4 linked regions of the Homo sapiens genome follow. The protein of the gene in region 1 interacts with the protein of each later gene in a biochemical or structural test. Each region holds a gene or a part of one and is shown on either strand. Other genes may lie near its edges.

Evidence for each region.
Region 2: the proteins of SP1 (region 1) and POU2F1 form a complex in vitro, tested with the Homo sapiens proteins (3 studies listed by BioGRID and IntAct).
Region 3: the proteins of SP1 (region 1) and ATF7IP form a complex in vitro, tested with the Homo sapiens proteins (3 studies listed by BioGRID).
Region 4: the proteins of SP1 (region 1) and NFYA form a complex in vitro, tested with the Homo sapiens proteins (2 studies listed by BioGRID).

Annotation. Positions count from the first base shown.
Region 1 is NC_000012.12:53,382,640-53,390,649, forward strand, and holds part of SP1 (transcription factor Sp1), read left to right. Parts: coding exon 1-983; intron 984-8,010. UniProt on the Homo sapiens protein: Transcription factor that can activate or repress transcription in response to physiological and pathological stimuli.
Region 2 is NC_000001.11:167,411,876-167,419,885, forward strand, and holds part of POU2F1 (POU domain, class 2, transcription factor 1), read left to right. Parts: intron 1-83; coding exon 84-429; intron 430-1,150; coding exon 1,151-1,239; intron 1,240-1,986; coding exon of another isoform or gene 1,987-2,003; exon of another isoform or gene 2,004-3,624; coding exon 3,625-3,935; 3' UTR 3,936-8,010. UniProt on the Homo sapiens protein: Transcription factor that binds to the octamer motif (5'-ATTTGCAT-3') and activates the promoters of the genes for some small nuclear RNAs (snRNA) and of genes such as those for histone H2B and immunoglobulins.
Region 3 is NC_000012.12:14,424,671-14,432,680, forward strand, and holds part of ATF7IP (activating transcription factor 7-interacting protein 1), read left to right. Parts: coding exon 1-803; intron 804-8,010. UniProt on the Homo sapiens protein: Recruiter that couples transcriptional factors to general transcription apparatus and thereby modulates transcription regulation and chromatin formation. Can both act as an activator or a repressor depending on the context.
Region 4 is NC_000006.12:41,096,320-41,103,259, forward strand, and holds the end of NFYA (nuclear transcription factor Y subunit alpha), read left to right. Parts: intron 1-1,037; coding exon 1,038-1,091; 3' UTR 1,092-6,084; downstream 6,085-6,940. UniProt on the Homo sapiens protein: Component of the sequence-specific heterotrimeric transcription factor (NF-Y) which specifically recognizes a 5'-CCAAT-3' box motif found in the promoters of its target genes.

The sequences.
Region 1 (8,010 bases):
ACTCCAGCAGGCTGTCCCCCTCCAAGGCCTGGCTAATAATGTACTCTCAGGACAGACTCAGTATGTGACCAATGTACCAGTGGCCCTGAATGGGAACATCACCTTGCTACCTGTCAACAGCGTTTCTGCAGCTACCTTGACTCCCAGCTCTCAGGCAGTCACGATCAGCAGCTCTGGGTCCCAGGAGAGTGGCTCACAGCCTGTCACCTCAGGGACTACCATCAGTTCTGCCAGCTTGGTATCATCACAAGCCAGTTCCAGCTCCTTTTTCACCAATGCCAATAGCTACTCAACTACTACTACCACCAGCAACATGGGAATTATGAACTTTACTACCAGTGGATCATCAGGGACCAACTCTCAAGGCCAGACACCCCAGAGGGTCAGTGGGCTACAGGGGTCTGATGCTCTGAACATCCAGCAAAACCAGACATCTGGAGGCTCATTGCAAGCAGGCCAGCAAAAAGAAGGAGAGCAAAACCAGCAGACACAGCAGCAACAAATTCTTATCCAGCCTCAGCTAGTTCAAGGGGGACAGGCCCTCCAGGCCCTCCAAGCAGCACCATTGTCAGGGCAGACCTTTACAACTCAAGCCATCTCCCAGGAAACCCTCCAGAACCTCCAGCTTCAGGCTGTTCCAAACTCTGGTCCCATCATCATCCGGACACCAACAGTGGGGCCCAATGGACAGGTCAGTTGGCAGACTCTACAGCTGCAGAACCTCCAAGTTCAGAACCCACAAGCCCAAACAATCACCTTAGCCCCAATGCAGGGTGTTTCCTTGGGGCAGACCAGCAGCAGCAACACCACTCTCACACCCATTGCCTCAGCTGCTTCCATTCCTGCTGGCACAGTCACTGTGAATGCTGCTCAACTCTCCTCCATGCCAGGCCTCCAGACCATTAACCTCAGTGCATTGGGTACTTCAGGAATCCAGGTGCACCCAATTCAAGGCCTGCCGTTGGCTATAGCAAATGCCCCAGGTAAGATTTCCAATCTTGTGCATTTATTGGGAACCAACTCTAGCATCGTAGCTGAAACTTGAGTCTAAAGAAAGGAATAGAGCCTTTTGAGATAACACTTTCTTGAGGGTTAGTCATTTAGGCAAATAAATTTGAGAAATAGAGATTCTGTTTAAGTAATTTGGAACTGAAGTAAAGGAAACTTCTCCAGTTAGTTTGAGGAAGGAGCACTTCTGGGCAATATTCTGGAGTCTGTAATACTCAGTGTTTTTGGTGCTGCAGAATAATGGTTGACAAGCTTTCTGTAAAGGGCCAGATAGTAACGTAAATATTTTAGACATTGTGGGCCTCATGTGGTCACATTTTCTTTTCTTTTTTTTTTTTTTGAGACAGAGTCTTGCTCTGTCATCCAGGCTGGAGTGCAGTGGCGCGATCTCGGCTCACTGCAAGCTCCGCCTCCCAGGTTCACGCCATTCTCCTGCCTCAGCCTCCCGAGTGGCTGGGACTACAGGTGCCTGCCACCACGCCCGGGTAATTTTTTGTATTTTTAGTAGAGACGGGGTTTCACCATGTGAGCTAGGATGGTCTCGATCTCCTGACCTCGTGATCCGCCCGCCTCGGCCTCCCAAAGTGCTGGGATTACAGGCGTGAGCCACCGCGCCCGGCTTTCTTTTCTTTTTTTTCTTTTTTCTTTTTTTTTTGAGATGGAGTCTTACTCTGTTACCCAGGCTGGAGTGCAGTGGCGTGATCTCGGCTCACTGCAACCTCTGCCTCCCGGGTTCAAGCGATTCTCTTGCCTGGGCTTCTTGAGTAGCTGGGATTGCAGGCGAGCACCACCACGCCCAGCTAATCTTTGTATTTTTAGTAGAGACAAGGTTTTGCTATGTTGGCCAGGCTGGTCTCGAACTCCTGACCTCATGTGAATCCACCTGCCTCGGCCTCCCAAAGTGCTGGGATTATAGGTGTGAGCCACTGCACCCAGCCACATTTTCTGTTTTGTATGTTTTTTTTCCACACCCCTTTAAAAATGTAAAACCATTCTTAGCTCTAAGGCCTTCTTTGGCCTGTAGGCCAACTCCTCCATAGGATAAAAATTGATTATGGGCCGGGTGTGGTGGCTCACGCCTGTAATGCAGGCACTGAGAAGACGAGGCAGGTGGATGGGTTGAGTTCAGGAGTTCAAGACCGGCTGGGGCAACATGGCGAAACCCTGTCTTCGACAAAAATACAAAAATTGGCCGGGTGTGGTGGTACATGCCTATGGGCCCAGCTACTCGGGAGGCTAAGGCATGAGAATTGCTTGAATCTGGGAGGCAGAGGTTGCAGTGAGCCAAGATTGCACCACTGCACTCCAGCCTGGGCAACAGAGTGAGACTCTGAAAAAAAAAAAAAATACAAAAATTAGTCGGGTGGCTGGGCACGGTGGCTCACGCCTGTAATCCCAGCACTTTGGGAGGCTGAGGTGGGTGGGTCACCTGAGGTCAGGAGTTCAAGACCAGCGTGGCCAGCATGGCGAAACCCCTTCTCTACTAAAAATAAAAAAATTAGCCAGGCATGGTGATGCGCGCCTGTAGTCCCAGCTACTCAGGAGGCTGAGGCCAAGAATTGCTTGAACCTGGGAGGCAGAGGCTGCAGTGAGCCGAGATCACATCACTGCACTCCAGCCTGGTTGACAGAGCAAGACCCTGTCTCAAAAAATAAAAATAAAAGGCGGCCGGGCGCGGTGGCTCACGCCTGTAATTCCAGCACTTTGGGAGGCCGAGGCGGGTGGATCACAAGGTCAAGAGATCGAGACCATCCTGGCTAACACTGTGAAACCCTGTCTCTACTAAAAATACAAAAAATTAGCTGGGCATGGTGGCGCGCACCTGTAGTCCCAGCGACTCAGGAGCCTGAGGCAGGAGAATCACTTGAACCAGGGAGGCGGAGGTTGCAATGAGCCGAGATCGCGCCACTGCACTCCAGCCTGGGTGACAGAGCGAGACTCCGTCTCAAAAAAAAAAAAAATAAATAAAAATAAATTTGATTATGGGCTGGGCGCGGTGGCTCACGCCTATAATCCCAGCACTTTGGGAGGCCGAGGTGAACAGATCATGAGGTCAGGAGTTCAAGACCAGCCTGACCAATATGGTGAAACCCCGTCTCTACTAAAAATACAAAAATTAGCCGGGCGTGGTGGTACAAGCCTGTAGTCCCAGCTACTTGGGAGGCTGAGGCAGGAGAATCGCTTGAACCTGGGAGGCAGAGCTTGGAGCGAGCCAAGATCGTGCCACTGCACTCCAGCCTGGGTGACAGAGTGAGACTCCGTCTCAAAAAAAAAAAAAAAATTGATTATGAATTTTACCTGTTTGTAGAACACAGATTAAATCATCAGATATTTCTTGTGAACTGTAACTCCTAATTGAAGGGAAAATGATCTAACGGGTTGCTTTTCAACGAAGTAAGTTCCCTGGTTAGTATTAACCAGAATATCCCACACTCTGAGTGTGCTGGTTAATCAGGATTGAATTTTTTTTTAACTCCTAGTTATCTGAAAAACAAAATCCCATAGCTTCCCTTCACACTAACATATGAGCATCCTAGGTGATTCTGATACTTCTAGGTAGCAGTCTAACTTCCTAGACTGCTTTGAAAGTACTGTGTGTGGTTAGGAAGGGAGAAGGAAAGGGAGTGGGGTAAGTTGGGGTCTGGAATGGAGTGGGGGATGTAGGATTGAGAAGAGTTAGGAATGAGGAGAGCATTGAAGGGAAAAACAGTCTGGGAAGAATATTGAATCTGTTGACCATAATGTTCAGGGTCTTTCATTTTGAACTAAATGTTTCACTATTAATTTGAAATTTAAAACAGTAAACAGATGTAAGTCTATGTAGACTGTATCTTTTTTTTTTTTTTTTTTTCATTTTTGAGACTGAGTCTTGCTCTGTTGCCCAGGCTGTAGTGAGTGGAGTGGTGCAATCTCCGCTCACTGCAACCTCCCCTTCCTGAGTTCCAGTGATTCTCCTGCCTCAGCCTCCCAGGTAGCTGGGATTACAGGCGTGTGCCACCATGCCCGCCTAATTGTTTGTTTAATGGAGACGGGGTTTCACTGTGTTGACCAGGCTGGTCTCGAACTCCTGACCTCAAGTGATCTGCCTGCCTTGGCCTCCCAAACTGCTGGGATTACAGGTGTGAGCCACTATGCCCGGCCTGACTTTATCATTTTAAATTCCATTGTATGGAGCTAATCTTTAATAAAGCACAATAAAAGGATACACATACATCTTTATATGCTGGCACAATTATACAAATACGGAAAATAGTTTAATATCACCAAATAATATCACCCAACTTCTAGGTTTGTTTTTTTTTTTTTTTTCGTTTTCTTTTTTGGGACTGACTCTAGCTTGTCTCCCAGGCTGGAGTGCAGTGGTGCGATCTTGGCTCACTGCAACCTCTGCCTTCCGGGTTCAAGCAATTCTTCTGCCTCAGCCTCCCGAGTAGCTGGGATTACAGGCACGTCCCACCATGCCCATTAATTTTTTGTATTTTTTTAGTAGCGATTGGATTTCACTGTGCTGGTCAGGCTGGTCTCGAACTCCTGACCTCGTGATCCGCCCGCCTTGGCCTCCCAAAGTGCTGGGATTACAGGCGTGAGCCACTGCGCCTGGCCACTTCTAGTTCTTTTGGCATATATATGTGGGTTTATAAATTGTTTACTTTTGTTACCAAGTTCTCATTCCATTTAACTGATTCTTACATAAGTGAGGGTAGCAAATAGGCAACCATATTTCCTGCCTCCTGCAGTTTTGGTAAATCTAGGGGGAAAGTCTGCTTAAGTTCCCTGATTTCTTACATTCCTGTGGTGTGTTTAGAAATACTACATGTTGAGCTTTAACAAGACAGTAATTTTCTTAGTTAATTGAAATCTTAGAATTGAAAGTTAGAGCTGGAAGGGACTGAAGTTATTTAGTACAACTGCCTTATTTTCTAGATGAGGAAATTGAGGTACAGAGAATCACTTAATGAGACAACAGCCAGAGCTGAGGCTAGTTTTACTAGTCTAGGGTGCAACCTGTTTTAACTAGGGACTTGAACAATTCTTTAGATTGTTAAAAATGTATTCGAGCCAGCCTGGTGGCTCACGCCTGTAATCCCAGCACTTTGGGAGACTGAGACAGGCGGATCATGAGGTCAGGAGATCAAGACCATCCTGGCTAACATGGTGAAACCGCATCTCTACTAAAAATACAAAAAAATTAGCTGGGCGTGGTGGTGGGTGCCTGTAATCTCAGCTACTAGGGAGGCTGAGGCAGGAGAATGATGTGAACCTGGGAGGCAGAGCGTGCAGTGAGCTGAGATTGTGCCACTGCACTCCAGCCTGGGTGACAGAGCGAGACTCCGTCTCAAAAAAAAAAAATGTATTCGAAAAGGTGTTTTTGATTTAAGATTTAATGCTCTAAAACTGACAGATGTTTATAAAACATTTATAAAAATGTTTTATAAACTAAACATTTATGGGAATAGAAATGGGAAAAGTTTTATAAAAACTGACCTCTACAACGTAGAAAATTAGACACTTCTGGGCAACCTACACCATCATGTTTATTTTCTATTTGCTCTTAGATTGAAGTGCCCGGTTTTGCTCTTCTTCAGAGCAAACTGTGGGATTATTCCTGTTAATAATTTGGATCCTTGCAATTTCTAAAAGGCTTATAACTTAGGGTTTAGAGAACAGTTATGAGGCATTCTCATTGCTAAATCATGCTCTGGGGAAGTCTGCCATTTAATATGTCATAGACTAGGGCTACCTAGTTGTTACTGATGGTGTTTGAGCTGAAGAAAATGCGTGTGTGTTTCTGTAAGGTAAGAGGAGCTTGACATTCACTAAGGAGATAATGAGGCATTGACAGGCTGTTTTGTAAGAGTTGAGATTGTTTGCTTCATTAATAGGGGTTTTTGAAGATCCAAGTTTTCTCCTTTCTGGCTAGTAATAATTGTGTAGTATTTCCCCTTTAATTGATATGACTTCATCCTTAAAGAAAGATAATAAAATCACTTCCTAGAGGCTTACTCCTTTTTCAGCTTTTGCCTTCCTGCTGGCAAAAGTATCTTGTTTTGGCCAGGCGTAGTGGCTCATGCCTGTAATCCCAGCACTTTGGGAGGCCAAGGCAGGCAGATCTCTTGAGCTCAGGAGTTCAAGACCAGCCTGGGCAACATAGGGATCCCCCATCTCTACAAAAAATATGAAAATTACCTGAGCATGGTAGCACACGCCTATAGTCCCAGCTACTTGGGAGGCTGAGGTGGGAGGATTGCCTGAGCCCGGGAGGTTGAGGACGCAGTGAGCCATGATCACGCCACAGCACTCCAGCCTGGGCAGTAGGGTGAGTCCCTGTCAAAAAAAAAAAGTATCTAATTTTACCCCCTTCTCTGATAGTTATTTTACTGTAAAATTTAACCTTTTTGCAGTATGTTCAACTTCTTGGTACGATGTAGAAAGAACATTGGATGTGAAATGTTGTATGATACATGTATATATCACTGTACAAAATGAGATATATTACATGATTGTGGAAGATTGCAGCTTCCATGGTGTTCACTTAGTCTGTTTACATTCATTATTTTTTAAAATGATCTTTTTTTTTTTTTTTTTTTTGGGAGACGGAGTTTCATTCTTGTTGCCCAGGGTGGAGTCCAATGGTGTGGTCTCGGCTCACTGCAACCTTTGCCTCCTGGGTTCAAGCAATTCTCCTGCCTCAGCCTCCCGAGTAATGCCCACCACCACGCCTGGCTAATTTTTGTATTTTTAATCGAGATTGAGTTTCACCATGTTGGCCAGGCTGGTCTTGAACTCCTGACCTCAGGTGATCTGCCTGCCTCGGCCTCCCAAAGTGCTGGGATTATAGGCATGAGCCACTGTGCCCAGCCGCTAATTTTTGCATTTTTAGTAGAGACTGGGTTTCACCATGTTGGCCAGGATGGTCTCGATCTCCTGGCCTCCCAAAATGCTGGGATTACAGGCGTGATGTTTCTTTTTTTTTAAATTGACACCCCTCCCTCTTTTATCAACAGCTTTTCCTTTCATTTTGTAGTCATATTTTCCCAGATCTTTATTTTATTTTATTTTACTTTTCATTTAAAGCCTCAGATGTTTTTCTTAGCCGCTGCTGAATCCTGAAACTCTTGCCGCAGGTTGACGGGGAGTTGGCTTTTAAAGATTTAAGTTTGGATGACTTCTTGTGAGTTCTGTCTAATAAAGAGTGCAGGGCTGGGCTTTGGCAGGAGAATAGAACATATTTCCTTGATGGGTATAATTCATTCACAAACCAAATTTCAGGTACTAAAAATAACAATTTCACATCTGCTGGGTTTTATTGGGGTCAGGAAAATGTCTTCTCTTAGAAGTTAAGTTGAATGTGATACCAGGGTTGGTTTGCCAAGGGTGTCACTAAACTTGGAGTCAGATTGCTGAGAGCTAATTTGTTAAAAAGTTGTGTTTTAGAGCAGTACATTTGGACATTAATGAAAAGTAGGTTTAGATGATTTAAATGTCTTACCAGTTATCATTTTTGTGCAAAAGGTCATATGAAAGAATTTTCTATTTTAAGATTATATTTTATCAAATATAATGTTGAATGTTTCTGCGTCTTTTGTCTTTCCCTAGTATTATACTTGTTTCTCTTTTTAATTTAAAAAATTTATTTTCTAGAGATATCAGCACAGAAAGATATACTTGTTTCTTAGGGTGTTTGGTGCTTTTTAAATGGTTATTTCAGTTTAAGTAGGAAAGATCTCATTTAAAATCTAAGTGCTTTGAGGGGGCTGGGTGCAGTGGCTCATGCCTGTAATCCCAGCACTTTGGGAGGCCAAGGCGGGTGGACTGCCTGAGCTCAGGAGTTCGTGACCAGCCTGGACAACATGGTGAAACCCCGTCTCTACTAAAATACAAAAAATCAGCCGGGCATGGCGGCGCGCACCTGTAGTCCCAGCTAGTCAGGAGGATGAGGCAGGAGAATTGCTTGAACCCTGGAGGCAGAGGTTGCAGTGAGCCGGGATCGCACCACTGCAC
Region 2 (8,010 bases), on another chromosome or scaffold:
ATTATAGAGTTTGGCTGAGTAAAGCCACCATTCTTCCAAAACCATTTACAAAAGGTCATCTTCTAATCTGTTTGTCTTTTCAGGCACTTCAGACACCACCTCCAACAACACAGCAACCGTGATTTCCACAGCGCCTCCAGCTTCCTCAGCAGTCACGTCCCCCTCTCTGAGTCCCTCCCCTTCTGCCTCAGCCTCCACCTCCGAGGCATCCAGTGCCAGTGAGACCAGCACAACACAGACCACCTCCACTCCTTTGTCCTCCCCTCTTGGGACCAGCCAGGTGATGGTGACAGCATCAGGTTTGCAAACAGCAGCAGCTGCTGCCCTTCAAGGAGCTGCACAGTTGCCAGCAAATGCCAGTCTTGCTGCCATGGCAGCTGCTGCAGGACTAAACCCAAGCCTGATGGCACCCTCACAGTTTGCGGCTGGGTAAGGCGCTTTCTCATCTCATTCACGTCTGAGGTGGAGGTCATCCCTGGAATTACTCACAGGGGAGACTTTACATCACTGACTTAGATGGGGAAAAAAATGTCTTTAAAGCAGTAATCTCTTTGAAGTGGGCTGTTTTGTGATCATACAAGGACTTTGATTATAGTTGAGTTTATGTTTCTTAACACCCTGGGAAGGGCAGTAGTCATACCTTTGTTTCCAGATGAAGACCCAAAATACCAGGTCACTAATTACCTTAGTGACGGGGCCAGGAAGAAAGCCTAGAATTCTTGACTCTTATTTTCCCCATTAAACTCTCTCAACTGCCTACTTCCTAATTCTCAAGCATAGATAAGAGATGTAATAGGAGTCTCAATTTTATACTGTTATTGTCACACATTATAAGAATTATCTTGTAAATATATCTTTTTCTCTAGAATGTTTCTTTCATTTTGGAAAGAAAGAGAAATAAGTCTTTCAAAGAAGGGTCAAAATGACTATAAAAGTTTTACATTTTGTGCTGATCATAACCTCGTTTGTATGAGTAAGCATCCAGGAAAGCAGTAACTGAGAAGCACAAACCATAGAAGAGTAAAGAAAAATAAATATTTCCACCTATTTCCCCAGCTGGATTTTCGTTTTGTAAGTTCCTTTTGGTGTGTTGTCAAAATGAGACCTGCGTCTGCATGGTAATAAAGTGACTCCTCTTTTGGACTTGCAGAGGTGCCTTACTCAGTCTGAATCCAGGGACCCTGAGCGGTGCTCTCAGCCCAGCTCTAATGAGCAACAGTACACTGGCAACTATTCAAGGTCAGTAGAAGCCTTTTTCTTAATTTGGTGGCATGCACGTGTGTGTGAGTGTGTGTGTGTGTGTGTGTGTGTGTGCTTGAGACAGAGATAGAGGAAGTCTGCTTTGCTAGAGGTAAAAGTGATGGGAAAGAGTCAAATGCTGACTAACTTGTTCTTGAGAACTAAGAAAATGTCCTCGTAAAAAAGCTTTGTAAGAAAAGTATAGGTGTTAGTATGTGAGTAAAAGCAGGAAATATACTTAGTTTGGTATATGGTAAAAAACCAGAACTTTCATGCTAATATTGATCTTATGTGAGTAGACTTGAAGCCAGATTTTTTTCCCCTGATAAGTTTATCCCAAGTATTAATCTAAAACCCGTCTCTAGGCAAACTTGACCAAGTAAGACTCTCCAGTTCCCAGCTGCACTCCTGAGAAAGCTGTGCATGGGAAAGTCCTGTAATGAACAAACATTGGAACACATCAGGTGGACCTCAGGAGTGCTTTTAATTCTCATTAAGTTCTGCTCTTTTTATATCGCCGTTAGTGTAGAACATATATTCTCTTGGATTATAATGTCTCTTTTCCAAGCTCAGCTGGGTTCCTTTTGCCTTTTAGCATGTTACCCAGGGCAATATTCATTCCATATACTGAAGGGTTCCACTTGTTTAGTACCTAAGCTTTCTGTCTAAAAATGTTTACTGTTATGTGATTCAGGGAGACAATTTGAGAGACATCACTAATTAATTAGAATTTTTTTCTTAAAATAGTTTTGCTAAGAGGCTGAGGCAGGAGGATCACTTGAGGCCATGAGTTCAAGACTGCAGTGTGCTATGATCATGCCTGTGAATAACCATTGCACCCCAGCGTGGGTAACACAGTAAGACCCTGTTTCTAAAAAAAAAAAAAAAAAATTAAAGTGTTTTGTGCATAAATGAGAATTCTCAGGGCCAAAAATAACTATTAGCCAACCTAAATTAAGATTAATATTTCACAGGTAATATCTCTAACAGTGTACTAGAGAATGTTAATTACAGACAAAACCAAACCATGGCCTAGATTACCTTACATTATATTGACTTTCTGATTGACTAAATCATACCTGAATTGGTTAGCTCTAAAGCTTTTGTTATATAATAATTTTTTTTTGCAATAGAATTTGTGATAAATCACTTTTTCTTCTGCTTTATTGAATGTTTCTGTGCTGTGTTGATACTACAAAGGCAAAATGTCTTCCCTAGGGCATGATTGACACTCTGAAAAGATACTAAGTTTGGAATCTCAGAAAAACTTCAAGCTGCACTGTCTCACTGTTCTGTACTATTTGTATGAGCAAGGCCAAAGTCAGAGGCATTCCCTTCAGCTATATTTTATGTAAGAAATCAAATGTGTAATGCCGTTAGAAAATCCCTCAAATCTACATGTAGGAGTGAGGTTATATGGCTAGAGAGATTTAGGAATGTTGCCAGACAACAGGTTGAGATACTAAATGAGAGTCTCGATTATTTTAAATAAAATGTTGATGATGCCTTCTTTGGGGAAGCAACAGCATCATAGAAAATTTCTCACCCATTAAAGCACATCCTAGACTTAGATCACCCACCTACATCATTATGTCTAATTTCCTGCTACAATAGATTCATCATTCTCCTTTGCACAAGTCATAGAAATCAAGTATTTAGCCTCAGGAAGTGAGAAATTAATTATACCTTTTAACTTTATTTGGTGATACATAATTTATTTTAGAACTAAAGCCTTTTTGCAAGATGATTTTCATCTTGTATATCATAATATAAAGCAGTGGTCCCCAACCTTTTTGGCACCAGGGACTGGTTTTCTGGAAGACAGTTTTTCCATAGCCACATTGTGGTGGCGTGGTTTCTGGATGACACTGTTTCCACCTCAGATCGTGCTCTATGAGAATCTAATGCCGCCACTGATCTAACAGGAGGCAGGCCTCAGGCTGTAATGCCCACCACTCACCTCCTGTTGTTAATGCTTTAATCACTTCAGCTAGTTTGTCCTTTGAACAGAGGTAGTTTAAAATCAGCAGTCTTCATTAAAGACAAAATTATTGGATTTATCAAATATGTCTAGGTAAATGAAATAAACTGGTGATTTCAAGACACGAACATGACTCTAATTCATTAGACAGTTATTAGCTGTCTTCTACCCCTGCTTGTGCCCATTAAATTAGACATTTCAGTCTTTTAGGCTCTTCAAAATTAAAAATAAACTACAATTGGTATCAATATAGCACTGTGTTTGAGGAAAAAAATTCAGTGAAGGGCTATACTTTTTCCTGGTGGGTTGTAGGAAAATGATAGACTTTTGATGTGTTATTTGGCTTCTCCAGGATGATGTTAATGTTTTCATTCCTGCCTGTTTTGGGGGGTTTTTGTCTGTAGCTCTTGCTTCTGGTGGCTCTCTTCCAATAACATCACTTGATGCAACTGGGAACCTGGTATTTGCCAATGCGGGAGGAGCCCCCAACATCGTGACTGCCCCTCTGTTCCTGAACCCTCAGAACCTCTCTCTGCTCACCAGCAACCCTGTTAGCTTGGTCTCTGCCGCCGCAGCATCTGCAGGGAACTCTGCACCTGTAGCCAGCCTTCACGCCACCTCCACCTCTGCTGAGTCCATCCAGAACTCTCTCTTCACAGTGGCCTCTGCCAGCGGGGCTGCGTCCACCACCACCACCGCCTCCAAGGCACAGTGAGCTGGGCAGAGCTGGGCTGCCAGAAGCCTTTTTCACTCTGCAGTGTGATTGGACTGCCAGCCAGGTTAATAAACTGAAAAATGTGATTGGCTTCCTCTCGCCGTGTTGTGAGGGCAAAGGAGAGAAGGGAGAAAAAAAAAAAAAAACCACACACACCCATACACACATACCAGAAAAAGAAAGAAAGGATGGAGACGGAACATTTGCCTAATTTTGTAATAAAACACTGTCTTTTCAGGATTGCTTCATGGATTGGAGAACTTTCTAACCAAAAATTAAAAAAAAAAAAAAAAAAAGAAACAAAAAAATCAAAAACAAACAAAAATAAGTGAAAGGACTACTTATCATTTCCAGCAGTCATGATGACAAGTTAAGGTGGGTTACCAATTCCAATATAGGAAGGGGATTTCTTGTTTGTCTAAATTTCTTTTTTTCTTAAAAAAAAAAAATCATTTTTATGGGTCTGTTGTACAGGCCATTAAGTCATAACAAGGTGTTTATAATCGTATCAATTGTGTTGGGGGTTCCTTTCTTAACTGGTACAATTTAGGCAGGCCTGTATTACTGTATTATTATTGTTGTTGTTGTTATTGTTTTATATATATAGTTTGGACATGTTTATTATCTCTTGCTCCTGGATCCTATTTCAGTGAGCTCCCACACTGTGGGGAGGGAGGGTTTTGGGGTAAGGGGAGACTTCTGTTCTTAACTGTGGGGAATGTTCTTGCTGGTTTCCTTATCCTTGATGACTCTTACAGAGGTGCTAGAAAATTATTTTCTTTTGCCACTTATGCAAGAGGCTTGGTGCAGAAGCTGAAGGCAGTGTGTGCAAACACTCCCATTCCACACACGCCCCTTCCCCTCCCCACATCAGGTGGTGCCTTTGGAGCACTTTTGTGTAGGAAGGAATTCCTGCTGAACTGTAGCTCTCACTCACCCCCAAATCATTGAATGACCCTGAGGCCCAGTTCCTGTGGTGCAACAGTGCTGCTTTCTGCTACTTTCAATGGGAACAGCTGTACATGTTGCAGGGCAGGATTTGGTTCCCAAGAGCAAAGACTACTGCAGACACCTGACTTGGTGGTTCTCCTGATTTCTTATCTCCTGAAAAATGCTCCTGCTGTTGGTGTGTTTGTTTGTTTGTTCCATTTTGTGGAAGTTTTTCATCCAAACTTTAACTAACTTGGCAAAGAAAAAAAACTGACTTACTGAAATTGGGAAACTTTTCCCTTCTTTTATTTTCTAAAGGAATTCTACTAGACTATTTTCCATTGATAATATATACAAAAGAGGTGTGATGAGAAGGGTATAAGGTTACCACCTTTTCCTCTAGAGAGCCACAGACTTCCTTTCCACTGGATGGTTTATAAATTCCTCTAACCCTGAGATTCTTCTTGGTTCTCTGACTAAAGGAGGCACTTATTAGCCGGGCTGGGATCTGTAGAACCTTTGAAGAAGGACTTTGAGCAGGAACTTTGCACACACCTTAAGTGTCTCCTTGGTTTGTTCATGATGCTCCTGCTAGGTAGGTCTAAATGGCAATACACATCTCTTTATTCAATGTAGAAAGTAATTAGCTCTGTAATTATTTTCAGGGTGTTTGTAGACTATATAAATGAGCCCATTGAAAAGGAAGAGTTTGTGAAAGTGGATGAAGAGGAATAAGGGTAACTTGGAGATTAAATTCCTTTTTTTGTCAGTGTACTGTTGTTATGCCATCTGTACCAAAAAATTTTCCAAAAGACTGGATCACTGCAGTGCAGCTCATCTAAGTTCCCCTTCTTATTGGAGTTAAAGGTTCCCATTTGGTGGCTGTGGGTGCTTGCTTAAATCTCTGGTGGTCCCAAGACTGCACTTTTTCTCCCTTTCGAGCTGGGGATGTAGAGAGAACTTACAGGTGATTTTTATTCTGATTGCTTTTGTTTGTGTCCACAAGGGAGCTTGGATTCTGTGTACTTGTCTCTTTCCCATTGTCCAGTAAGGCAGTAAATACAGACACAATGTGTACTTTTGTGTGTGATTCAAGTGGGAGACAGTCTGTTAAAAGGTCAGAAACATTTTAGTCCCCTTTAAAATATTTCTTTTAGTTTATTTCTATCGTGTTTTATTTCACAGATATTTAATTACCACCCCTAAATTTCCTCCTCTTACCCTTCACCTTCCCTAAAATCCTTCCAAAATCAGTGAACTGCAAGCAGGGAAACTAACAAATGTCCATTCACCCTTTTTGTGTGGTGTGTTTTTTTATGTTTTGTTTTGTTTTTTAACTAAGCTTGAACCAAAGTCAATTTTTAGCAAGCTGCTGTACTAATGGACTAGTTGATAACGTGCAGTTCAGACACATCGAGGAGATAGATGCTACTGACAATTTCTTTTTCATTTGTCTTTATTAATTTTATATGAAAGTTGCTGCTTGTTTTTAATCTTTTATGTTGGTAAATTGTGATATCCTCTGGGCAGACATTAACTTGATGTTTAACTAGTTTATTAGGTTGGTGTGTAAATAGAATGACAATGTCAATTACTAATTTCTCTCCTCTCCATTCACTTTTTCTCTGTTGTAGTTAAATTTAATCTTCTATCCTGACTTGACATCTCTACCTTTAGTCTGTGGAAATGATTTTAGGGCTATCAGTAATGCTGTAGCTGCCCATAATAATGAGTCCCTCCCTTGGGAGTGGTGAAACTTAGAAGGAAGGATTCAGGGAGGGAAATGCTGGTACCCAGTATACTGGATTAGAAGTTATAGCATTAATTTCTCAAAATTGCTACCAAAGGAAGTGTGGAGTCCCAAGGGACTCAAGCTCAGTGAGGTAAGACAAAGGGCAAGGAAAGGCTGTTTGGGTGGTTTTTTTTTCCCCACATATGGTTTAGAAAATGATCCCTTTCCCAAACAAAACTCACCAACAGACTTTAATATTAGAAAAGATACTAAGCTTTAAATGTCAATACAGTGGTCTTTTATTCCCTGCCCTGTCTATATTTTCTACTCAATTTGGGATAAGGGGATTTTATGTGAAGCACTTGATGAGGGTAGACCAGCATAAAAAATCTGTTTAAAAGAAGAAATAATCTTTAGGAAAAGATAAATCTTTAGATAAAAATAAATTTTTTTCTCTTTTTTTACTTATTTAAAAATAAGTTGTGAAATGAAAGGTACATTTACACATGTACACACGAAACACTAATATAGCTTTTTGGTGGTTGTTTAGTTTAAAATCAACTCCCTATCCATCATCCCTAGATATTCTACTTATCGTATTGCTTCATGAACACCTTAGTCATTTTTTACTTTACGTATATATTTTTTTATCATCTCAAGAAATGCATTTTGAATTGAATGAACTATCTTCTAAGCTAAGATACTCAAATTTAACTTTTAGCCACCTTATATGGGAGAGCCTGGAAACTAAAGGGGACCAGGGACCATTTGACCAAAAGAGGTGTTTGGTGGAGTTTCTGCATTTCAAAGAAGAAAGGCCAGATAGGTCATCACAATTCATTGTATTATTCTTTTTTTTTCCCCTTAATGTTTATGCAAATTTTATTTTATATTTCTGAATTTGGTTAGCACATACTAAGCCAAAGACTATTCTAAATGCATTTATAGTGAATACTATGTATGCCCATGGTAATGGGTCCTCCCTAAGGAGTGGTGAATGTAATTGTGTGAATCCTGCTTATCACAAGTGGTGCAATTTGGTCATAAACTTTATTTATACCCTGTATACATCTGAATAACAGAGCAGAAAGACCTAAAAAAGGGCTTCTCACAGGAACAATATTACTATGTTGTTCTAAGAAAAAATAAGTTGAGTGCTGTATTAGTTTAAGTGTTTCTAAAGTTCTATAGGCAGCATTTTAGAATTAAGAATTGTGTATATCCATTAACTGATATAATTCACATGTCCTTTTATTTGTTATCAGAAAGATCAATACTATCCCAATTTATTCAACTTGTTACCCAAGAAATGGAACCAAAGGAATCCAACTTTCATTTTGTGTAGAATCATACCTACTTATACTTAATGCTAGCACTGTAAGAAATAAGTCTTTTTTGTTTAAAAAAGGGAAG
Region 3 (8,010 bases), about 39 Mb from region 1:
TGATCTGGCCTCTGGTGATCTATCCTCTAGTGAACTGGCCTCTGATGATCTGGCCACTGGTGAACTGGCCTCTGATGAGCTGACTTCTGAATCAACCTTTGATCGTACCTTTGAACCAAAGTCTGTACCAGTTTGTGAACCAGTTCCTGAAATTGACAATATAGAACCAAGTAGCAATAAAGATGATGATTTTCTTGAAAAAAATGGAGCTGATGAAAAATTAGAGCAAATTCAGAGTAAAGACTCATTGGATGAGAAAAATAAAGCTGATAATAATATTGATGCTAATGAAGAAACTCTAGAAACAGATGATACAACTATTTGTTCAGATCGACCTCCTGAAAATGAAAAGAAGGTAGAGGAAGATATTATCACAGAGCTTGCTCTTGGAGAAGATGCTATATCTAGCAGTATGGAAATTGACCAAGGTGAAAAGAATGAAGATGAAACTTCTGCAGATCTTGTAGAAACGATTAATGAAAATGTTATTGAAGATAACAAAAGTGAGAATATCTTAGAAAATACAGACTCTATGGAGACAGATGAAATCATTCCTATTTTGGAAAAGCTTGCACCTTCTGAGGATGAACTTACTTGCTTTTCTAAAACATCTCTCCTTCCAATCGATGAGACAAATCCAGATTTGGAAGAGAAAATGGAAAGTTCTTTTGGTTCACCATCTAAACAAGAAAGTAGTGAGAGTTTGCCAAAAGAAGCCTTTCTGGTCCTCTCTGATGAAGAGGATATTTCGGGTGAAAAAGATGAGTCTGAAGTTATATCGCAAAATGAAACGTGCTCTCCAGGTTAGCATATAACTTAAATGTTAAAGATTTTTTATTGACTTTGATGAACTGTTTAATAAAACATTATCATAATGTTTTAAATTTATTTTAGCTGCAGAGAAAGTTGAGAATGGTGATGACTCTATAGAAAGATGTCTTAACTTCATAGAATTCAGAATTAGTGTGTGTACTCTGTGAGTAGCATTGTACTAAATACTAAGAAGGGAGATAAAATAAGTAGAAAATATGCCCTTATAGTCTGGAAATAGAGATGAAGTAGAGCACCATAACACTGAGATAACAGTTTAAGTTAGTACATAATTGACTAGAGTTGTAGCAGTTCTTTCTTGCTATCACTTAGCGAACAAATAACTTAGAACTAAAAGCCTAATAGTTTAATCTATTTGCTTCAAGTGTAACAAATTATATTTTCAATTAATATTCCCAATGAAATCCTGTTCTTTAATATTCTTTGTCCAGGAATGACAGCACCATTGTTGTAAGCCAGAAACCTTAAAGCTTGATTATCCATTTGATAAAGACTTTACCCATTTGCTCCCTCAGCCCTTTTGATTCTACCCAACCTATTCTCTTCCTCATTTTCTGAATGAGCTCCCTGTAACCCAATTCTCTTATTTGATATTGTCCGTCTATGTCTTAGATCTCTGTTACTTTTAGGTTGATTTCAAACTCCTTATGTAAAAGGTACATTAACTTTATGATTTGTTCAGTACCTATCTCTCCCATCTCTTTTATTTTATTTATTATTCCTAGAGAAAAAGAATGAGAAAAATTCTACCTTCTTTTATGGTCAAACTGAAAAACATTATTCCTCTATGAAACTTTCTAAGCCTGTGGAAGACTGAGAAAAGCATGAATACCTTTCTTTTCCCATTATATCACATTCTTTTAGATTTAGACATCTCTGAGAGAAGTGACCTTGCTAGCATAAAACACCATCTAATTTCTTCAAAGAAAAAAAAATGGAGGCAGGTCTAAGAGACAGAGACAACTTTTTTCCCCAATATATCATACCAGCTTTTGGAGGTAGAGATTTTTTTCTTATTAAAAAATGGCTTTTTTTTTTTTTTTGGCCAGGTAAGGTGGCTCACACCTATAATCCTAGGACTTTGGGAGGCTGAGGCAGGCAGATTGCTTGAGCTCAGGAGTTCGAGACCAGCCTGGGCAACATGGTGAGACCCCGTCTCTACAAAAGTACAAAAATTAGCCAGGCGTGGTGGCACTTGTCTGTAGTCCAGGGTACTTGAGGGCCTGAGGTAGGGGGATCACTTGAACCTGGGTGGTCGAGGCTGCAGTGAGCCGAGATCGCGCCACTACTCCAGCCTGGGTGACAAAGTAAGACCCTGCCTCAAAAAAAAAAAAAAAAAAAAAAAAAAAGGATGGCTTTTTATTTTCAAAGAGCATTCAACTAAACCTATATAAAGAGACAGGCCAGGCCCTTCTTGGTTCTAGAGATTTGAAGATAGTATTTGCCCTCAGGATACACACAAGAATTAAATCATAGGCCATTAAATACAAGACTGTGAGTACAGTGATAATGTTAAATTGGCATTCTGGGAGTGCAGATTAAGGTAACTTTATTAGAGCACCAGATGTATTAGGGATGTCTTGCCCCTTTTAATATCTGTATAACAGAGGTTTTTTTTGTTTGCTTGTTTTTGTTTTGTGAGACAGAGTCTTGCTCTGTTGCCCAGGCTGGAGTACAGTGGCACAATCATAGCTCACTGCAGCTTCCACTTTACTGGCTTAGGTGATCCTCCCACCTAAGCCCCCAGAGTACCTGGGAATACAGACATGTGCCACCACACTTGGCAAAATTTTAATTTTTTTGTAGAGACAGGGTCTTGCTATATTGGCTCTGCTGTAACATAGGGTTTTAATGAGTCTAATTCTTTTTTTTTTTTTCCGAGATGGAGTCTCGCTCTGTTGCCCCGGCTGGAGTGCAGTGGCACGATCTTGGCTCACTGCAACCTCCGCCTCCCGGGTTCAAGTGATTCTCCTCCCCACTCCGCCTCCTGCGTAGCTGGGATTATAGGTGCGCGACACCACGCCTGGCTAATTTTTGTATTTTTAGTAGAGTCGGGGTTTCATCATGTTGGTCAGGCTGGTCTCAAACTCCTGACCTCGTGATCCTCCTGCCTCAGCCTCCCAAAGTGCTGGGATTACAAGCGTGAGCCACCGCGTCTGGCCAAGTCTAATTCCTTTTAATGGCAGCTCCATCCTACTTGCTGAGGCCAGAAACTTTGGAACCATTTTTATTTTTTCTTTCACACCCCATAATTAGTCCATCAGGAAATTCTGTTGGTACTACTATCATAATAGATCTAGAGTCCAATTCACAACTGTTATTACTCCTGCTGCGAGTCACCATCATCAGGCCAAAACGGTGCCTGGCACACAGTAAGTGCCCAGTAAATATTTGTAAAGTGAATGAATAATCAATAATGTAAGAGAAGCATATCATGGAGGACCTTGGTTATAATGCTAAAGCTTTATGATGGCGCTGGAATGCCAATAAAGAACTTCAAGCAGAGAGGAGAATGAAATTTACATTTTGGAAAGGTAATAGGTGACAGTGTTGAGAATGAATTTCATCCATTTCCTATAAGTGTCTATACAGAGTGTGGCACTAGGCCAAGTCCATAAAAAAGCCTTATAAGTCCTTTAAAAAAAAAAAGTCTGTATAAGAAAGTTAAAAAAGCAAATTGCAGCTTATGATTTAATGAGTACCTTTATGTCAGAATCTTGATATTGGAGGGCATCCCACACAAGGCAGTTAAGTGCTGAGAGATGAATATTAAGCCATCCATGTTGCATACTTTGAAAATTCAAAGTTGGGAATATTTTTGGTTACTTGCCTTTAATCTGATGGTATGCTATTAGCAGGGTAAATTTAGTGATAGATTTAATTTCTTGGCTCATAACTAAACTTTTATTTTGTATCTTTTCCCCTTCCTCTGAAGGTAATTTTGTGTATTTTGAGTTTAAGAATAGTTTCTTAATTGGTTCTTAAACTGTACTCTGTTCTCTTTATATGGCGACAGAATCTGTTGCATGTCATTTATGTTGCTGTACTCCTGTTGAAATGTTACTTAAATAAATGCCTTTATTCTTGACTAATTTTTAATATACTCAGAACACAGAATTATTAGCTGAAGTACTAAAGTTGGCTTCAGTACTGGCTCTTCCTTCTAGCTACTAACATCTATGAGTGTAGTAAAAGGAAAATAGCATAACCTTCTGTCATTTCAGGCACTTGTTGAGCAAATATGTTTTAAATAAAGCAATTGTGATGTGTATCAGCAGCAACAAGAAATAATGAAAGATAAAGCAAATAGAAAAGCTATTTTAATTTTACAAAAGTAGAAGAAAGAACTAAAAAAGTGTTGCATATATACCTTAATAGGTCTAGAGACATTACTGAATTGTGACATAGTATTATGTTATAACTAATACTCACTAATTATTAAAATGATAATCTGTTTAAAGAGGATAGCAAAATAAAGATTTATCTCTCTGGGAAAGTTCAAACACTAGAGGAGCTTCATCGCCATACCATATACTTTCCTCTAACTACTATTTCATCTCTTTCCTTTCTTTTAGTGCCATTCTTCAAGTTATATTAACAAAGCTAGGACCATTTCTTCTTCTGTTAGGCCTTCCACTTAATTGGATTTTGATTTCTGCCTTGGTAGCTGCCGCCCTCCTAATTTTTCTCAGTGAAATGACATTGATGATCATGTTATTAAATCCGGGGACATCTTTTCTTTGTCTTATCTATTCTTCCATACTTGGATGACCTCTTAATAACAGTTCTTCCCTCTTGAGACTCCCCTTAGCTGTTGGGTTACTGCATTCTCCATCTTCCCTTCTTTTTTGGCCTTTCTCATTCTATTTCTTGTGGAAAAATAGGGATAGGCCTCCTCCACGTGCTTTTTTTTCTTAAACATAAGATTTTTGAAGAGAAAAATCTGTTTTAGAGTGAACTAGATTTTTTTTGCATTAAACACTGACATAGTTTCCTTGCAGATTTTATTTCAGATTAAAATAAAAATCTGTGGTTGATATTTTCCTCCCCTTGTTCATTGGATCTTTAAGGTAAATAAAATAAACATAAACTGATGCTAATGAGGATAATTACATTAGACTAGAATTTGAGACTTCCTTCTATTTTTGCTGTAGGTTAGTATTGATAGAATTGGCATGATTTAGTCAATTTACTGTTAATTTGTTGTCACTGTTTATTGTGTTCAGTTAAAATTCTTTATCATCTCAATCCATTTATATTTAGCTGTTACTTATGTACTTGGCTTCTCTTTGTGGAGCTTCTTAGTTCTATTCACTAGTGTGCAAGTTGCAGATTTTTCTTTTCAGAGTTGAGGAAGACCAAAGATGAAGTAGATTTTGGAAGGAGGTGTATAGGAGGAAGATCATTTTTCAAATGAGTACTGTTGTCCAAGTTAGATGTGTAAGTCTGGATTTCAGATCAGAGACTTGACTTGTATTAGAAAAATATAGTAGGTAGCATGTAGCTATTAGGTGACAAGATGAAATCACCTCAGAGTAAGTATACATGGAGAAAAGATCCAAGAATTGTGCTTTTGGCATTTCAGTGTTTAGGGTTGGGGAGATAAGGAAGAACCAACAAAGGAGCTGAGAAAGAGCAGCCCCTGAGGTAGGAAGAAAATGGAGAGATTTTGGTGTTTCAGAGATTTTGGTGTTTCAGAAGCCAAGTAAAAACACTGTTTTGAGGAGGGAATAAGGTAACCGTTTACTATATCAAATGCTGCTGTGTGTGCTCATAAGATGGAAGAGAAGTATTTAACAATCTGGAGATCATTGGTGACTTTTACCAAGGGGCAGTTTTGGTGAATGGTGGAGTGGAAAACCTGATTTGGGTTTCAGAGAGAATGGGAGGGGAAGAATTGGAGATAATACAATGGGACTTTCCCCGCTAGGTTTTGCTTTTAAAGAGAGCACAAAAATTCACATAGGAGATATTATTTGCCATTCTGTATTGGTTAAATAAAACTAATACAAAATGTCTGGAAAAGTCACATTACCAGTCATGCCTTATTTTTCTGATAGATCTTGTTAGGTTGAGAATCTTTATATGTTTATTGGCCTTTTATAGTTCCTTATCTGTGAATTGCCTGTTCATCTCCTTTGCCCATTTTTCTAATGGATATTGTCTTTAATTTGTCTGTAGGAATTTCTTGTTTTGTTACAAATATTTTCATGGAGCCAGTAATCTAAATCAGTGAATGGGGTAGACTGGCCTGTGAGCCCTGTTTTTGTAAATAAAGTTTTATTTACATAAACATAGCTATGGTAATTTGTTTACATGTCACATAGCACTTATTGCACTTATTTGTTTACATGTCACATAGCACTTATTGCTGATTCCTGCAACAAGGACAGAATTAAGAGGTTGTGTCAGACAGAGGTCATGTGGCCCACAAGATTGAAAATATCTATTTTTTGGCCGCTTACAAAAAAGATTTGCCAATCTCTTATCTAAGGCAATGGTTTTTGTCCTCCATTTTTCCTTAGAATAAAGTTCTATAAAGTATAATTCTGAAATGGGAAACTAAGTCCCCTAATGTAAATTCTATTTTGTAATCCTTTAAAAACACAGTTTTCTACCTTTACTTAATGGAACCTTATTAAAGATAGTAGTCATCTGATAGTATTAAACATGTAATTTGTCTCAGCTATTTCTCAAAGTGTTTGGGATTACCAAAATTATGAGATCTGGTATCTGCCCTTAATGAGCTTACTGTCTAGTCTGCTTGAAAGGAAAGAATATGGAACTATGAAAACTTGCCAAATTGTGATAAGGCTATAGCCTTATCCTCAAGAAAATCAAAGGAATTATAACAGAAACTTATCTGTAAGTAAGGACAGATTCTAAAAAAAACATTCTTTTTTTTTTTTTTGAGATGGCGTCTCGCTCTGTCACCCAGGCTGGAGTGCAGTGGTGCGATATCGGCTCACTGCAAGCTCCGCCTCCCGGGTTCAAGCGACTCTCCTGTCTCAGCCTCCCGAGTAGCTGGGACTACAGGCATGTACCACTACATACAGCTAATTTTTTATATTTTTAGTAGAGACAGGGTTTCACCATGTTAGCCAGGATGGTCTCGATCTCCTGACCTTGTGATCCGCCCGCCTCGGCCTCCCAAAGTGCTGGGATTATAGGTGTGAGCCACCACACCCGGCAGTAAAAAAGACATTGTTAACCTACTATTTGGATGAGTTTCAGGAGTCCCAGGAACTACCTGAAATTATGTCTAAAGTTGTCTGTGTACCAAGGGCCTTTGATTATTACTCTGGGTTGAAGGAGACCCATTCTTAGTTTTTCTTCAGGCTTTGTGGACAAAATAAAATTAAAGAAATATAAGGCCCTACCCGTCTCTGTAGAATTTGTTAATACCATTTTTTAAATCCCAAGTTCTTTCCGTTACAAAAAACTCTAGCAACTCTATTTTAATTCTGTGAATTCTGAGTGTTTTAAGTGTTGGGGATCCAGTAATATCTTCTAAGCATATCTGGAAACTGGGAGTTGGGTGATAGGAGGAGGTTTTTGAATAAAATGAAGAAATCTCAAGCTGAGCTTGACATATGGAGAGGAAACTAACATGCGTATAAAAGAGGCAAACCATAGCAGGCCAGTTTATTCTGCTGTGTTCTGGATGCTCTGGCTTGGAGTCACTCTAATTGGAGCCATGGCTAATTTTGTGCTTTGTGCGATGTGAGGATTTGCTAAATAAAGACTATGTAAACCTTTCATCTCAAGCATCCCAGTTACTCTGTCTCTCTGGAAACTCTGGGGACTAGGAAGCTCAGGAGTTACTAACAATGAGTATTAAAATCAGAAAGATATGGAAAAATATAGAAAGAAAAATGTATTTTAATGAGTTTGTGATCTGTTTACAAGAAAGCAAACAAATTTTTATTTCACTGAAACTGAGGTTGAGAGATGAGGTCTTAAAACACTTAAAATGAGCAAAGGGTAGTAAATGGAGAGTTAATTTTCAAATAATTTATTTTAAAGTTCAAAAATAGTTTTAGTAATTCTGTGTACTGTGTTAGCTTATTGTTTATCTTACAGTGAAAAAAATACTTCTAGCGCCTTAATAGGTATTCATCAATGATCCTTGTCCTTGCCTATTTTCACCTAAAATATCTTTTAAATTTTTTTAACCTT
Region 4 (6,940 bases), on another chromosome or scaffold:
CTATTCATTCATAACGGTGTATGAATGTGGGCCTGACAGCTATTGTGGCAGGAGGGCATTGTGCCAGGAACTCTCCTCATTCTGTGTGCTAACAATATGATCTTGGTCAATTCAGCCTCTTTTATTTTTATCTGTAAAGTGGAATACTGTTGATACTTCACAGCAATGTTGTAGGGATTTCATTCAGTAATCCACATTAGGCATCTGTGTAGCACCATACCTAGTGCATGGTGAGTTCAGTAAATGCTAGTTGTTTTTGCTCATTGTTCAAGACCCAGTTCCAGTCTTCCATCTCCAGAAGGCTTTCAGCTTTTTCTCAGATCCTGCCTACCAAGGCTTCAGAGCCTTGGTATGGGGGAACTAAAGGTGGTTCTTGCGGAGTGTTGCAAAAAGCTTCCAAGGATTTATCCTTGTGTTAACACGGTAGGTCTTAAGTGAGAAACAGCATATAGAGTTTAGTGGAAAGAAGATGAAATGGGAGTCAGGAGATTTGGGAGTTAGCCCTTGCTGGACTCCTAACTTTCTGACCCTGACCCTAGTCCACGCAAATCACTTTACCCATCTGGCCTTCAGATTTATCTGTAAAACGAGTACATTAAAGTGTATAGATTCTAATGATTCTTTCTAGCCCTGCTAAGTACTCAGTATTTAAATGATGATCAAAAAACAGTGACAAAAATACAGCATGACATGGTTTCTCTGGGTCTTTTCCTTAGACACCTGAATCTGAATACTCTTAACCCTTAAGTATAGAGAACAACACAAGGTTCTTAGGAAAGAGATACACTAACAGCCCTGCAGTGTTTCACCATGGAGTGCAGGCCAGACTTTAAATTATTTTAAGAATAAGGTTTATTGTCTCTTCTTTCCTAATGGGGCTACACTTTAAGCCATGTATGCAGACTTAAGATGTATTACAAGCCTTTGATTTACTTGGTAAAGTTATGTGTATTCTCTTGGGGGGATAAGTAGTGAGAGCCATGAGTTCCTGTTGCTTTTGCAAAGGACTTTAATCATCATGTCATCTTTGTCTCTAGGATCCAAACCAAGCCGATGAAGAAGCAATGACACAGATCATCCGAGTGTCCTAACCCCACGCCATGTGATGGAGCTGATCAAGGTCATGTTTCTCACTGTTCCAGGAAATTGATCAACTCTTCCAATGGGACATTGATGATCACATTCTGCCCTTTACTACAGGACAGAAACCACTTAGTTTTTAATAAGTGGCTCAGTATTACAATTGCAGCGATGCCTGGCAAATTGAAGTTGCAAGCCTTTGTCTTACTCTTTCAGTCAGGACCTATTTCAGACTGTTGATGACATTGACATTTCATGGATTCGGATGATGCAAGGAGACACATGCCACCCCAGCAGTACACAAAGCACTTACCTTGACTGGTGAAGTCAGCCAGCCATCTCAGCAGGGAAGAACAACCTTCTCAACCAAAACTGCAATCAGGAAAGCAGCAGCCCACTCCTTCCCATGGAATCTAGACAGCATTTATCCCTCTGGTGGGGGAATCTCACACTGACTAACTGAATGGACGCTTTGTATTCAGAGATGGCTTCCAGGCAAGGAAGTTCTATCTTGTGATACGGAAACAATAAATTCCTGAGATACATTCTTCCAATCTGTGGTAATAATAAGAATTCCTCTCTGCCCAGATGGTAGGTTGATATTTCTGGACTCTAGCCAAGAAAAAGCTAATTCTGGGGATAGAATGATAAAAGACTCAAGCACTAAAAATATACATTGCCGAATCTCTTTTTCTAGCTTTGAAAAGTTGTGGCCTGCTTGTCCCTCTGTTGACTGGTCATCTGGACCATCGTACTTGCTGTGGCTACTTCTAAGACAATGTAGAGGGTTATTAAACCTTGAAACTGCCTTTCCTAAGTAGAGAACAAGACTATTCAACAACTTCTTTGCTGAAGCACTGAGGAGATTTGTAATACTCCTAAAGGAAGGGCCAAACTAGAGATTTTCAATCATAGACTTTGTGACAGCATTTGGGGAACTAAAAGATTCATGTGTTTCAGCCTAGTGGGAGAGAGTGGGGGAGAGGAAGAGAGAGAGAGAGCATGTATACCCGTATGTTATCATAGAGCACGATTCTCCAGTGGATGGATACCTGGAATGGATCATTAAGATGAAGAGAGTAATTCACATTTACTCTAGAACCTTTAACAAGCACTGAAAGGAAGAAGCCTGAGATTTGATCCTTGACAATTTCTGGAAAGCACTGGTCAGTCACACTGTCCTGGACAGAGTCCAAGTTACCCACTAAAGCTTGAGGTGGATGTTGGCTTCACTCCTGCAGCACAATGCTGGCCCTAGAAAGCGAGCATTTTCATTCTTCCCATGGCAGCTGATTCTTTGGTGCCAGTTTTCATGTTTTCTCCATAGGCCTTGTGCAGAAAGGTTTTCTCATTGCATCCATACTGTGAGAATAAACTGCAGACTGAAAGAAACATGCCTGCAGGGTCAGGAACTGGGCCACTGTTCCCAGAACGGGTTGTGCCTCAGAAATCTATTTCTCTTTTAGATGTTGAACCCTGAGAGAACTAAGATGATATTTCAGAAGAGTTGGCTGCCTTCTCTGGAAACAAGGAAAACCCAATAATTCCGAGGAACATTGGGGGTTAAATACCAAGAATAAAAATTGGTTCTTCTTTGACTTCAGCTTAACTGTATTAAGACAGAAATTAAGCCCTCTAAAAACACCACAAAGAGAGATGATTGTAATGATAGAAATAGAGGTACAGAGCTATGCAAAGGAAACAGGAAGTGAAATATTCCTAGTCCCAGGGATCTGGTAATCGCTCCTGGCTTCCAGATGTCAAAGGACTGATCCTTTGGTAAGCTCACTAGAAACTTCTAGCTCTACAAGAGTTTGGGATATTAATGTTATTCAGTAAGTCCCAAGTTTTTCAGAGAATAGATTACTAACAATGAGGAATTTATATTCCTTGGTTAATTTAGGAGTCTAAGATGCAGAGTTCAGAAAGAAATTACTCAGACCTAACTTTGAGTGCTTAAGCTGCCAACAGTTAGAAGATGCTATTTATTTGTGTCTGTAAGTTTGTACATAGTAATGCCAGCCTTGTTGCTGAATTTTTTATTTGGGGGGAGATGACTTTGAATTTTGTTTGAAATGCTTCAGTTGTCATTTTGTCATTGCATTTCAAATAGCTCATGACCCTTTTCTTGTGGTCACTTTGGCACACCATAGTAGCCCACAAAGTGGGGGCAGGGTATTGACATTTGGATTTTTTCTTTGATACTAGTTCTTTTATTCATTTTTATTTGTGACTGTAGTGATAACTTTACAGATGGAGAAAGAGTGAATGGATGAATGAATAATTGGTTTAATGCCTAGTTATGCAACTTGAGTGCTTTTTTTTTTTTTTGCAGGATAATTTTAAGTGTATATATTTTAACTGCACTGGTACATTGAACATGTCAGTGTCGATGCCACTGGACCAACAGAGCATTTTGTGGCTATAGGGTGCCTGATAATAATGTCTTGATTTTTCTTTGGGATTCAACTATATCGAAGGTTTTTCCCCCAGCAGTATGGGGGCGTACAGGTGATCGATCATTAATGTCATTGCAATTGTTATTTTTTAAAATAAATTTATAAAAATAACCGAAAAGTAATGTGACTTTTGAGGAATCTGCAACTCCTGGGTTCTAGTTTGTGTTTCCAGTGTTGAAATTTTGATCTCCCCCGACAAGACTTGTCTGCATGGACGGTGTCTCTGTAAACAGTATCAAACTTGTAATGTCTGAGCCTCTTAGCTTTATCTCCCCTTAATTTCTTCCCTTTTGGCCCTTCCACCCTGTTGAGGAGATTTTTTCTGTCACCTGCAGGCTGATCATACATTTGATGCTACTACTGAAAGTGTTTATCAAAATGTGATGAAGTAATTCCATGAGGAAAATTAGCCGTTATCACAAAAACAGCCTTAAGTATTGTAGAATTTCAGGTAGTGAAGATGTACTATTTACGTTTTGTTAGATTTTGTTTTGGCAGAAGACCAAAACAAAAGTACTTTTCTGATTGTTAAAAATCCACAGCATGCTCACCTTGTTACTGTTTTACCTTACGGTCGCTGGGAATCTAAGCAACAAAGACTAGAAGCCTCCGATATGCCATTATCAACACACAAGAGACAAACAGCCCGAGGAAGCACTCAATGATGAGAGCAGTAGACCTGCCCTGGCAGATGAGAGAGGAGAAACTCTCCACAATGAAGGAAAAGCACTGACAGTATTTGATAGCTTTAGTCAAACTGTGCTTGAGTTTGGCTTAGATTTATGCCAGTGGAACCTGTCCTTACCAAATTCAGAGATGACCCAAGATTCTACTCTGTGGTATGAGGGAAAGACCTCTCGATATTTATCTCACACCAACGGCTTTATCGTAGGAGCGTCTTCGCCTCCCCCGTTTCCAGTAGAAAAGACAGCTTTGCTCCTTTGAAAGCGCAGACCGCCGCACCTCCAGCCCCTTCTCCCCGGGGAAGTAGGCCCCGCTAAGAATGTGGGAAGGTGGTGGGGCGGCGACTGAAGTCGCTTCCGATTGGCGTTGTCCCAAGGAAGCCTGCGCGGATTGATCGGCGGCAGGCCTCCAATAGAGCCTGCTAGGCGGATTGGCTGCTACGCGGCTGGGCCCTGTTTCCGGTACCTAGGCGGGCAGCCATGGTGACCGGCGAGCGGCATGCGACGCCGCCTCTGTGGCCTGTGGAGGCCCGCTTGGCGGCGCTGCTTCCCGACCTACTGGTCTTTCGGAAGCCTCGGGGATGGGAACCCGAGCTCGCCACGGCCCAGGGCGTCCTCCTAGGCGTCCATGTGACGGGTGAGGGCGACGGCCGGCACTTGCACTTAAGTCTCCTGGCCTGCGGGAGAGGCGGCCGTTGGGTCTAAGCCCCTGGAGGCCTCGACGGTTACAGGCCTAGCCTCCCGCGAGCTAAGGCACAGTTTAACTTCGTGCTGCGGCTTCCTTAGGAAACTTTGAGTATCTTCGTTTTAGCGTGGGAGGACATCTTTTGGGATGAACCGGCTCAGTCCTTGAGCTCACCCCAAAGATGATGAAATTGAAACTCAGAGGAAAGGATTTTTACAGGACCACGCCCCGGGCTTTGAACCCGTTTTTCCCAACCCCGAGCATTTTCTATTAAGCGTTCTGTTTCAATTATTTTATTCGTTCAGTTAATTCGTTCTTGGCGTCATAAGTATATGCCCGCCGTTGTTCTGGCCGTAGCTATCTAGCAGCCACTCCGCGAGTCGTTCATTTAACAAATACTTACTCTGTGTCAGGGATATGAAGATGGGTAATACCAGGTGCCTGTCCTCACTGTGTGAGTGGTTCTCTAGCCAGACATGAGGAGGGATCCTATTGTTTCCCATAGCTAGGCAGCCTAAGAGAGTAGGGGAAAGAGCTGGCTCCAGATGAAAAGGGCACCATCTCCAGCTCTTGGAAGCAGAGAGGGTGGTCCTTTGGATTCCCAGTGGCAGCAGCAACCAACCTGGCCCTTAGTAGTTTCTAAGTTACACCATGTTAATGGATAAAGGAATTACTCAGCTTGAAGGGATCTGTTTCCTTTACACTGGCCTGATGTGTGGGGAGAAAGGGGCCAAAAAGTTTAGGATTTGGAGTTAACATCGTAATTTCTGCTTTGTTGGTCAGGGTTTACAGCATTAATGGACAGGTTCACCCTGACCTACAAGTCGGAACGTGACATGGACAAACTGGCCCATATCTTCAGTTATTACATTAGTGACATCGTGGAGCGTGAGTGATCATTGTAGGGTAACAAGGTGTGGTGCTGGGCTCCTGGGGGTTTATAAAAGAAGGGGGCCAGAAGTACTTTAAAACAGGTACCAAAGGGTCATTCCTTTAGCATCATTCATCTTTGGTTTCTTCAAGTTGCCACTGAAAAGCTAGACCTTTGCCTATTATCTGCTAATCTACCCAGTCTCACATTCTATTGACTCATTGTTCAAAGGGGGGGCAGGAGGAGCTAATTTCCTTTGCACATTTGTATTTTATTTCAAAATAAAGTATTCTCTTCTAACAATAACGTATCTCAAGTGTGTATTCAGACAAAATTTATAAAACATCTTTTTATTATTATATTTTGATCCTGTGAGGAAGGAATAGGTGTTTTCTTATTTTCTGCCATGTATTAAGCTTTTAGATATTTGCCAGATATCCAGTATCTGGAAAAAACTCATTTATGTAGTACCCATGTTTTGAGTACCTACCCTGTGACATGGACTGTAATAGGTGCAGGCAGGGCAAGAACCCACTCTTGAACTTTTTAGTTAGGCCTACCCAACAGAAATTACTCTGACCTTATACCTTTTAGTACTTACGTAACATTCTCATCCTTTACTGACAGTGCCCTGTATGCTTCCGTCCATCATTCTGAGATTCACCAGAATAATTACTTTGAGGCATCTCCGTTAAGAATTTGATTATTTGACTTACCTCTTATCCTTAAGGAACACATGGAAGGTCGTTTGCTTTTTCTTATAGGTTTGGATGAAGGGGAAGATAAACATTCTATATCGTGTATGTACTCTAATACCAGCAACTTCTGGGTACTAGAACTACAGGGGAAAGTAAGACAGAGTACCCTCGTGGAGTTTCCATTTTAGTGGGACAGACAATAAACACAATAATTGTAGCTTATATATTCTATCAAGGAAATAAACATAGTATAGTGGTAAAAAAAAAACACAAAAAATAATTTTAGGGTAGGGGAGTATATGAGACAGGGTGGTCATAGGCTCCTCTGAGGAGGTATTATTTAAGCTGACACTTGAAGGATGAGGGGAACAGCTTGTGAAGAACTAGGGGTAAAGCATTTCAGACAGAATACCAAGTGCAAAGGTCCTGAGACAGGAGAAAGCTCGGCATGCTCTAGGAGCTAA